2 separate regions of the Homo sapiens genome follow, and region 2 is linked to region 1. The links come from fine-mapping of genetic effects on gene expression. A gene starts in region 1. The other region holds a variant in brackets. All regions are shown on one strand. Distances are from middle to middle. Region 1 holds the start of PYCR3 (pyrroline-5-carboxylate reductase 3). Region 2 holds the start of MROH6 (maestro heat like repeat family member 6).

The links.
Region 2: its variant is fine-mapped to the expression of PYCR3 in fibroblasts (GTEx, PIP above 0.99). The same link has a PIP of 0.9 or more in hippocampus, lung and nucleus accumbens.

What each region holds. Positions count from the first base shown.
Region 1 is chr8:143,607,351-143,612,542 of GRCh38, forward strand. It overlaps PYCR3 (pyrroline-5-carboxylate reductase 3), which reads right to left and starts at 2,225. Exons shown (of 6, transcript NM_023078.6): 1 at 2,108-2,225; 2 at 712-776. The coding sequence starts at 2,198. RefSeq lists an enhancer at 3,333-3,832.
Region 2 is chr8:143,568,483-143,573,674 of GRCh38, forward strand. MROH6 (maestro heat like repeat family member 6) reads right to left here and starts at 4,290. Exons shown (of 14, transcript NM_001100878.2): 1 at 3,939-4,290; 2 at 3,551-3,703; 3 at 3,185-3,339; 4 at 2,395-2,512; 5 at 1,991-2,175; 6 at 1,761-1,898; 7 at 1,469-1,583; 8 at 1,215-1,358; 9 at 959-1,132; 10 at 70-237. The coding sequence starts at 4,232. It also overlaps a transcript of NAPRT not described here. RefSeq lists an enhancer at 2,799-3,648. The variant G/A (reference allele first, on the strand shown) is at 2,745.

The DNA.
Region 1 (5,192 bases):
AGCCCTCCATCCCCAGTGAATGTCTGTGACCACCACCCAGCATGCAAACACACCCATGCACATGCACGCACTCACGAGCATGCATTCATATACACACACGCAGACACATGCACTCACGAGCATACATACACATGTACACATGAATGCACTCATGAGCACAAACACATGCACACACACCCACTCGAGCATGCACTCATGTGTACACGCACGCACTCATACACGCACACACGCACTCATATACACATCTGCACAGGCACACATGCACAAGCACATACGTGCACTCACGACCACACAGGTGCACATGCACTCATGAGCATGCACTCATACACACACGCACACACATGCACTGACATACATGCACTCACCACACGTGCACACGCACACACAAGCGCACGTGCAAACGCACATGAGCACATACATACACACATGCACACGCATAGCCTCACATATACACACGTGCATATACACACACTCACGGACATGCACTCACACATGCATACACACACACACACAAACACTTTGCTTTGGCCCTCCACAACCTTACTTTCCTCCTGGCCTCTAATCTCCCTTTTCCCAGCCCAGACCAGCCAGTCTGCAAACTTCAGCTAAATAAACCACCCATCCCTGGCTCTGATAAGTGTCTTAGTGGGACAGGAGCCAAGAGCTATCCTGGGCTCCTGAGGGTATGAAGAACCTGGGCTCTATGCTCACTTGAAAGTGACATAGGTTCCTGTCTGTTGGTGCACTGGCCAGTATGTGCTGAGCTTCCACTTTTCCTGGAAAGAAAGGAAAAGGAAGAGGGGTTGGTGAAGGGGTGGGATAGGATGGCACGGAGAGGAGAGGGAGCTCACTTGGCCTCTCAGGCTCAGCCACGCCTGGCCCATCCTGGGCCCCCTCCTGGCCCCAGGAACCCAAAGCGGGATGCACCATTCACTGGGCCCAGGCAATCAGATCCACTGATTCTACTTGGCGGTCAACGCCCCTGACTGCTGCTGGGTATGGAGGCCAGGAGCTTACCTCATTGGTGAGGACACAGATCCCTGGGGCCTCTGCCTCCAGGGAAGGGAAGGCTGCCTGGAGCAGAAGAGGCAGTACCTCTGGAGGAACACCAGGCCTTGGGGGAATGTGGTGGGTACAAAGGCAGTTGATTGGCCACAGAAGGCCCAATCGGGGCCCAGGTTCTTCGAGAGGGAGAGTCTATGCTGGAATGTCTAAGAAAAGGCTAAATGCCTACTTGGTAGAAATTATCTGCTTTTGTCGGGTACGGGGTGGAAAGATTGGGTTAGATTTTGGTAAGGTCGAACAGGAAGGCACAAGTGTACACCACAACCTGAACACAGCAATTAATCATGACAGTGGCAGCCAAACACACCAGTACTAAGCTCAACACTAGACATTTATGTCTCATTTAACCTGTACAGCTCTGGGAGGCATGCGGTACTGCCAGGTTTCACAGGGAAGACTCCTGAGACTCATAGTAAGCTATTTCCCGATTGATCTTGACTCTTCTGGACCCTGAAGTATGGCTGAAGGCAGAGAGTCAAAAGTCACCCAGCTCTCCCTATCCACAATCTGCAGAGAGGCTTCTAAATGCCTGGAGGAGTATATGGTCAGCATAAATATTCCGGGTATAAAGCAGTGTTTCTCAACAGGGGATGATTTTGCCTGTCTCCTCCCCCCACCCAGGGGACATTCGGCAGTGTCTGGAGGCATTTTTGGCTGTCACAACGTGGGGGTGCTGCTGGCACAGGATGGATAGTCTGGCCCAGGTGTCCCTAGAGCCAAGGTGTCTGGGGGAGAAGCCCTGCTGCTCCCCATGAGAGGGGCTGGCGCGCAAAGAGAAAATCAGAGGCTGGAAGAGGTGAGCCTGGCCAAGGCCACGCGGCCAGGAAGCCGGCCACGGAAGCGGCACCTAGCCACGTGTGACTCAAATCTTCCCGCAGCCACGTCAAAAAAGTAAGAGCAAACAGGCGTGGCCCCGGCTGCGCCCAGCGGAGCGGAGACCCGGTTGGCTGGGCCCGCGCCCCCGGCCCCACTCTCGCGGCAGGACACCTCCCACGGGGCTGCTCCCACTCCAGACCGCAGGCCTAGCCCCGCGCCGCCCCACCTGCTCTGATGAGGCCCTGCGCGATGGCCCCCGCCATGCGGCCCGCGCCCACGAAGCCCACGCGCCGCGGAGACGGCTCCGCAGCTGCCATCTTGTTGCCTCGGACGCCGCTGCGCTCACCGCCCATCCACAGGCCGCGCCCCGCCCACAGATCTAGGCCCCACCCCCGCCCTCCAATAGGACTCGCCTCCCCGTCCCCACCCTCGCCGATTGGTTACTGGGACGGCACACTCCGGCCGGCTTTTTGTCCGCACTCTACAAGTTCGCAAGGCGCGGGAACCCCGCCTCTCGCTGCTTATTGGCCCGAAAGGGCTATGCCGCCCCTCACTGCCCATTGGCTGAGAGAAACTGGGGGCGGGGCCGTAAGGGGCGGGGCCGGCGGGGTACTCGCGCTCGGAGAGGCCGGAGGAGCGGGGAGGGGTCCCGGTCGCGCGTGCGAGGAGCACATGTTGGTTTTCCGGAGGGGAGGGGTAGCGAAGCGGGTTGCGGGGCTGGTCCAGAGCGTGCGGTCACTGAGGCCCCGCCGACCACAGACGGTGGAGCTGCGGGGAAGCACTAGGGGCGGAGACCCAGGTCACGGAGAGCAGGCCAGGGCCAGGGGCCTGAGACCGACGGAGGGGACAGTCGGGGAGGGGGTACTCGTCACTTTTAATGACACAAGGAAAACAAGGCTTGAAGATCTGAGTGCGGTTTTTTCATCATCCAATCTAAAGCTGCATGTTACATATGTTATTTTCTTTTGAAGCCTTTGACATTTTCTTTTTTCTTTTTTTTGAGACGGAGTCTCGCTCTGTCGCCCAGGCTGGAGTGCAGTGGCGCCATCTGGGCTCGCTGCAAGCTCCGTCTCCCGGGTTCACGCCATTCTCCTGCCTCAGCCTCCCAAGTAGCTGGGACTATAGGCGACCGCCACCACGCCCGGCTTATTTTTTTGTATTTTTAGTAGAGATGGGGTTTCACCTTGTTAGCCAGGATGGTCTCAATCTCCTGACCTCGTGATCCACCTGCCTCGGCCTCCCAAAGTGCTGGGATTACAGGCGTGAGCCACCGTGCCGGCCCAAGCCTTTGACATTTTCTAAGCTCTTCAGTAATGAAATCCTCTCATTGATTCAACATTCACTGTGCAGCTGCAGCCTCTGGGCCCTGCTCTGGGCCTGGGCAAGATCACCCCACGGCAGCAGATGGGACAGGCTGGACCCCACCCTGCAGCCCTGCTTGGTGGCAGTGTAGACAGACTACAGTCAGCACACACGCAGGACAGCCAGTGTGTCAAGGCTCTGAAGCAAATGAGGTGGAAAGGGACAGAAAGCCACCAGGAGGCTGCTTCGGCCACTGCAGCCGAGAAACGTGGGTGGTGGACACTTTGCACCAGCACACAGCGTCAGCAGCTGTATCTCCTGCCACCTCGGATCCTCCCAGCCCCTTCCCACAGACTCCCTGGATTTTCTCCCAGGCCCCCTGGGCCAGTGATGGCTCAGGACCAAGGCTGTGGGGAGGTGAGAGGGGCCAGAGGCATCCAGTGCCATGCCATCATACATAAGGACAAAGCTCATCATAAACAAGTGGACTGAGGCGAGGTGAAGGAGGATTGCTGGCTGAGTGCCCAGGGCCACAGTGGGTAAAAGGAGGCCCAGGGGCCCAGCCCCGTTCAGCTTCTCCGTCCCATGCCGGGCTGGGCTTCTGAGCATCAGCTGGGAGCCCTCAGCTGACGTGGACACCCAGCCAGCCAAGGCTTGTGTCCAGGGCACCTCTCTGCTCTTGGCTGGGCTTCTTCCCACTGTTCACCTGGTGGATCCAAGCAGCCACATAGGCGCCACCCTCTCCAGGAGGCCTTTCCTGAACCCCCACATGGGCAGAGCCTTTATCCACAAAGGGCTGGGGCCAGGGGATACACTGTGAACGAGGCCAACCCGTCTCCTGGAGCTCGAGGTCCTGGGGTGTCAGCGGGAGGGTTAGGGGTTGAGGCGGGGCTCCCAGAGGTTTCCAGACAAACAATCCCAGCAGGGCAGGGTGGATGCTCCGAGAGGCGCTGTGAAGGTGCCATCAGGGAAGGTGTTTTGGAGGCTGGGCCACCTCAGCTGAGGCCTAAAAGGTAGGGAGGCCTTGACCCAAGAGGGGGCCAGTCTCAGGGGAGGCCTGGAGGACACCTCGGCTTGCTGGACACAAAGGGACAGTGAGAGATGAGGTGAGCGGTTGGCTGGGTGCAGGACACACCGGTCTGGACTCAGTGCCGGGACAGGGAGGACACATCACCGCTGCCGGAATGAACGAAGAAGTGAAGCAGCAGGTCCTACCTGCAGCCAAAAGGCATCATGTGCGTGAAGACGGCACAGGGCGCCCAGGAGAGGGACCCTGAGGACGTGGGCCCAGAGTTGGGCCAGGAGCCAGGGAGGGCATCTGGGTCCTGGATGCAGTGGACCAGAGGGTTCTGGCATAGGGGCTCCCTCTGTGAGAGGCACTGAGAAAGGGGGCGACGGGCAAGCCGGGGCCTGGAGCCCAGTGCTCCTGGTCCATACCCCAGCGCCACCCTGCCTGGCTGAGGCACTGGCCCGGGAACCATTCTGGACTTTGCTGTCTCCCCTCTGAGAATGGACGGGGGCGGCGAGCAATGACACCCCACCTCTGGTGGCTGGAGCTGACCTGTCCAGCAGGCACCTGTCCCTCTCCATGGGATAAGGCCAGGTGGGGGACCCACGCCCAAGCCTGAGAGCCACAGAGAGGAGGGGCCAGGCCAGGGGAAGCCCGAGCCACCCAATCATCAGCCTCCCCTCATATCCATCCATGGGCTCAGCTCGGCTGGCTCACTAGACGTTTCTGGCCCACTAGACCAGCTTCCCCAGAGCCCTCAGGCTGAGGCAGGGAGGTCCGGGTGAGCTCAAGTTACTCAGGCCTGCAGGTGGCCACATGTGGAGGGGCTGGGACTGGCCCTGCCCTGCACATCCTTGTCCAGCTGACAGTCCACACCAGTCTCACTGCTGCCTGCCTGCTGCCTGCCCACGTGTGCCTTCCCATCTCCAGCCTCTGCGGCCTTTCCACCCCAGGGAGTCACCAGCTCTTGGGGGCTGAACAGTAAGCCAGGGGGATAGTG
Region 2 (5,192 bases), 39 kb before region 1:
AGGGGAGGCACGGTGGGAGTGGTGAGTGTTGGATGGCATAGGGGTGGGATGGTGTCGGGGGCTGCTGACCTCAGCAGCGTCCCTGCTGGGGTCATGCAGGCGCAGCAGCAGCGGCACGAGACTCTGCAGCACCAGCTTCCGCAGGGGGCCGCGGAGCCCCAGCCGGAGCCCGCCCCGGCCCCGGCGCACCAGAGTCCCAAGGAGCCCGACGGCCGAGGCGCGGATTGAGTCCCGTGTCTGCGTGGGAGGGCGCAGTCAGGGCAGGCGGAGACAGAGAGGGGCTGCAAGGGTGGGAGGGGGCGGCCAGCGCGGAGCGAGGAAGCGGCGGGTCTAGGGAAGGCTGCTGACTCGGTGTGATCTGGGGACAGGGAACAGGGCCTGGAGCTGGACCTGGTTGGGAAGCCTGGAGAGCCCCTGCAGGGGGTGGGGCTTGAAGGGATGGGGTCCGGAAGGAAAAGTCGAGCGGGGAGGAGCTTGGCGGGACACGGCCCTGGAGGGGCGGAGCTGGGCGACAGCAGGCGGGAGGGGCGGGGGCGGTCAGGAGGGAAGAAATCTGGGACGGAGACACTGGGGGGACGGGGCCTGGGAGGGAGAAACTGGAGGGGCGGGGCGGAGCCTGGGAGGTCAGGGCCTGGGAGGGACAGACTGACAGACTGGGGGGCGGGGCATGGGAAGGAGAAACTAGAGGGGCGGGCGGGGCCTGGGAGGCGGGGCCTGGGAGGGAGAGACTGTAGGGGCGGGGCGGGGCATGAGAGGGAGAAACAGGAGGGGCGGGGCGGGGCCTGGGAGGGAGACTGGGGGCGGGGCCTGGGAGGGAGAGACTGGAAGGGCGGGGCGGGGCCTGAGAGGGCGGGGCCTGGGCGGGAGAGACGGGGGCGGGGCCTGGGAGGGAGAGACTGGAAGGGCGGGGGCGGTGACAGCGGCAGGGGCGGGACCCGGAGGCGGGGCGTTTGCTCACGTCGTCCAGTAGCGGAGGGAGGCGCGGTCCCAGCTCCGCGCTCAGGAGCCGCACAGGCGCCCGGGGCCGCAGCAGGAGCCTCCTCAGGGCGCCCAGCGCTGCACCCACGAGCCGCGCGTCGCCTTCGCCCAGTGCGCCCAGGAGCGCCGGCAGCAGCGTGCTCACGTGCCGCACCTGCTGGGACTCGGGGTCAGCCTCTTGCAGACCTCGCCGCGACCGGGCCAAGCCCCTCTCCACCCCTCCCCTTCTCTCACACCTTCCTGCGATTCAGCGCGAGGTGGCCCAGGCCCAGCAGGCCCAACCAGCGCACAGTGGGTTCGGGGTCTCCCTGCCAGGTGAGGAGTCGCTCCAGGATGACCTCCTCCCGCAGGAGCCGTGCGGTGGGCCGGCTCTGCAACAGCTAGGCGAGGCACATGGGGTCAGCACGCCCGCGGTCCCCGTGCAGGCCGCTGCGATTCAGGGATCAAGTCCAGGGTCACCCTTCACCACCCATCCGGGAAGCAGGCTCACCCCTGTGAAGAAGGCCATAGCCGTGAGACGCTGCGGGTCGTCCGCGCTGCGAAGCCGAGGGAGCAAGTCTGCGAAGAGGCCTCGCAGGTGGTGGTCGGCATGTGCCACCATAGCACTGGGGTGGGTGGAAATGGGAGCTCTCGCTCCGTTTGGCGGCCTTTCTCCTCGAGAAGACCCCATCCCAACACCACCCTCATGCCCCTGCCTTTTCCCTGTCCCCCTGCCCAGCACCTGGCCAGCAACGACTCTCTTCCTGGTGTGACACCCTGGGGCCCCTCCTCACCCTCCTCACCTGGCCAGCAGCAGGACGCCCTCCAGGTGGGTGTGGGCTCCCACCAGCCTCCTCCAGCCTCCTGCCTGCTCCATGCACGTGACCACCATGCGGCCTCCATCCCCGGTGAGCAGCGCCTTCAAGGCCTCCACAGCACAGCTGGTGGTGGGGACAGTGAGCAGGTGGGCAGTGGGAGCTGAGAGGGTGACAGCATGCTGGCCCGCCCCACGTAACCTGGTGTTGCCTCTCACCTGGCATGGCTATGTGGTGGCCCTCGGTGGGACAGAACCCAAATCTTGGGCATGTCGGGGGAGCACGGGCTGCGGGCCAGCTTGTGCAGCTGTGTGACCAGCGCAAGCAGCAGATGTGGGTAGAAGCCCCTCGTGGCTCCCACGCAGCCCGAAACAGCCAGCATCTCCCCAAGAGCACGTGTGGCCTGTGGAGCAAGTGGCCCACTCAGGCCTGGGGCACGCCTGGAGCTGCACTGGGCAGCAGAGGGACAGGCGTGCTGTCAACAGGATGGGGACAGCCTCAGACACGCATGGGACATTCCAGGAGCAGTTACCTAGGTGCAAACTCCCTATGCCCATCCTCCCCGCTCCTCGCCACCCCCCACCCCCGCCCCCACCCCCTGGTAATGGCTGGAGCCACCTACCGCCAGTGCCTGGGGCTCCGGCCCCGAAGCACCCTTCAGCGCCCACAGCAGTTGCACCAGCACCTGCCCATTTACACGCTGGTTACGGCTTAGGCTGCGCCAGAGCTCGGCTGCTACCCTGAGGGTTTGGAGGGGGCTGGTGTGAGACAAGAGATGGGTGGGTGTCCAGGGAATGTAGGGAGTCCCCAGCCAGGGTGGAGGCAGCCAGTAGGACTCCAGCAGGGGAGGGGCAGGAAACCCCTCCCATCTCCCCCCATCCCCAAATCTCAGAGAAACAAATGAAGGGTTAATTGTGCAGACCACAACATAGCCTATCTCAAGCTGAGCTGCAGGGTGGGGACCCACTGGGA[G/A]TCCCGTTGGGTCAGCGACAGTGAAACAAACCTGGCATTATTAAAAAGAAAAAAATTGCCACAGAGAATAAAACCAAAGATAACTTCTGGGGCCAATTAACCAAAGAGCCAGGGGTGTCCAGGCACGTTAGCCCCCCAGCCTCATTCACCCCACTCCGGAGCCAACCCCAGGACGGTCTCCAGGGGAGGCCACCCGAAGATAGAAGGTGGCTCCAAGAGAGGAGCCCAGCATCAGAAACTCTGTGGCAGGAGTGTGGGGGGAGTTTGCGGAGCTAAAAATGAGGGGAGCGGGAATGGATACGGGGCATGAGTCATCGCGGGGCTGGAATAAGGAGGCCCTGCCCCTTTTCAGCTCCCTCTTCTGGGGCCAGACTCCACCGCCAAGCGGGAAGAGGGAAGGAAGCCGCGTGGGGACCGCAGGGCCAGGACGGTTGGGTTACCGATCGGCGGGCAGAGAGCGGGGTAGCAGCGCACACACCACGTCCCGCGCATGCTCCAGGGCCAGTGCGCTCAGCACTCGCAGGGCCGCCCTCCAGGGCCTCCCCTCCGCTAGGCTGGGCACCTGCGCCAGCAGCCCACGCACCAGAGCATGCACCTGGTGGGGAAGGGGGCAGACTTCAGCAGTCAGGCCTCCTCCACCGTCCATTCCCCTCTGGCCTGCACCCCACCTCCACCCCCACCCTGATCCCGCCTGGCAGGAGCAGCCTGAAGATGGCAGGGTCAGGCTGCGCTCTCCAGGCCCCTCCCACCACCTTGGTGCCCGAACCGGCAGGATTCTGTAGGGCATGAAGTGGGTGAAGGCTGACCTGGTCCTCCAACCGCTCGCCCCGGGCCTCCAGGGCTGAGGACAGGGTGAGCACTGTCGCCTGGGTCCCTGCAAAGCCAGCCTCCTCCAGGCAGGCAGCCGTGTACAACGCGAGGTCGGCAAGAACTCCCTCCTCCCAGGAACTCTGGGGAACCTAGGGCAGGATGGGTGGGGCGTCTGAAGTGCCCAAACCTCTCCTAGCTCTCCTCCTGGTCCCTCGGCCTCCCACCTGGCTTCCTACAAAATCCCTTGCTCCTCTGTTGCTCACCAGCCTGTTTCACGCTGACCTCCCCCGGGGCCAGCACCGCCCCCCTGCCACCCCGCCTTCCACCTACCATCCACAGGACCCCCAGGCCGGTTCGCACAACATCCCTTCCCTCCCCCGTCACCTGGTGGGGCCCCTCAGGGGCTGGTTCCAGGGCACTGTTGAGGGAGCAGGGCTCGCTGCCAGCTTCAGGGACGGTGGCCCCACGTCCAGGCTCTGCCTCAGAGGGGGCGGTGAGTGCCTGGGTCTGTGGCTCAGCCTCAGGTTTGACCTCCCAGGACTTGGGCTGAGGGCCTGCGGAAGGGGGTCCCTGGGGCTGCCCCTGCCTGGCCCGGATTCCTTCAGTCAGTGCTGTCAGGGTTAGAGCCCCCACGGGAGCCTCCCGGGCCCGGCTCCGGCCCCACACACCCCCAGCCATGGCGGCCCTTGCCTGCAGCACCTGCCGCTGCTCCTCCTGCGAAGTTGTGCCCAGGACTGACCTAGAAGCCGCCCCGGGCGGGACCACGGACGGGCGTGGTGGCGTGCGCTAGCGTGAGCTTGCGGGGGCTGGGGAGCCACACGGACGTGCCTACAATGGGCCTTTGAGGGGCCCTCCTGCCTGGGCTGCTGGAGGGGAGTGGCCACCTGCAGCCTGAGTGCCTGTGGTGTGGCTCTACCCACCAGGGCCCTGAGAACAGGATCCCCAAGAGCTGGCAGATCCACGAAGAAAGGGGGAGAAGGGCCCCCACCCTGACTACCAGCCCCTGTTGACCAGGGAGCTCAGGGCAGTTGTGGACAGCTCTGAGGAGGTCCTCGCAGGGTCCAGGAGTCTGGGCCCCACCCTGAGTCGAGGCCTGATTCAGCCCCCAAGCAGCAGTCAGCTCCCCACTGGGCCTGGGGCTAGGGGCTGGCCCCGCCCCCTGCACGCTGGCTCCGCCCCCTGCACGCTGGCTCTGTCAGACACCTTGCAACAGGCATGACTGGGTGAGCTTGGGGCAGCCCGGAGGTGTGGAGGGGGCAGTGAAGACACCAGAGGAGCGGTGGCCCCTCCAGAGCTTGTGCAGGCCCCTCTGGGTCCTGGGTCCTTGGCCAAATCTCATGTTGAAACGTAATCCCCAGTGCTGGAGGTGGGGCCTGGTGGGAAGTGATTGGATCCTGGGGGCAACTTCCCCCTTTGGTGCTGTTCCCATGATAAGACTTCTCAAGATCTGGTTGTCTGGAAGTGCGTGGCACCGCCCCACCCCTTCCTCCGGCCATGTAAGACCTGCCCGCTTCCGCTTCCACCAAGATGGTAAGTTTCCTGAAGCCTCCCCAGCCATGCTTCCTGTACCTGCAGAACCACAGGCCAATTAAACCTCTCTTCCTTAGAAATTACCCAGTCTCAGGTATTTCTTTACAG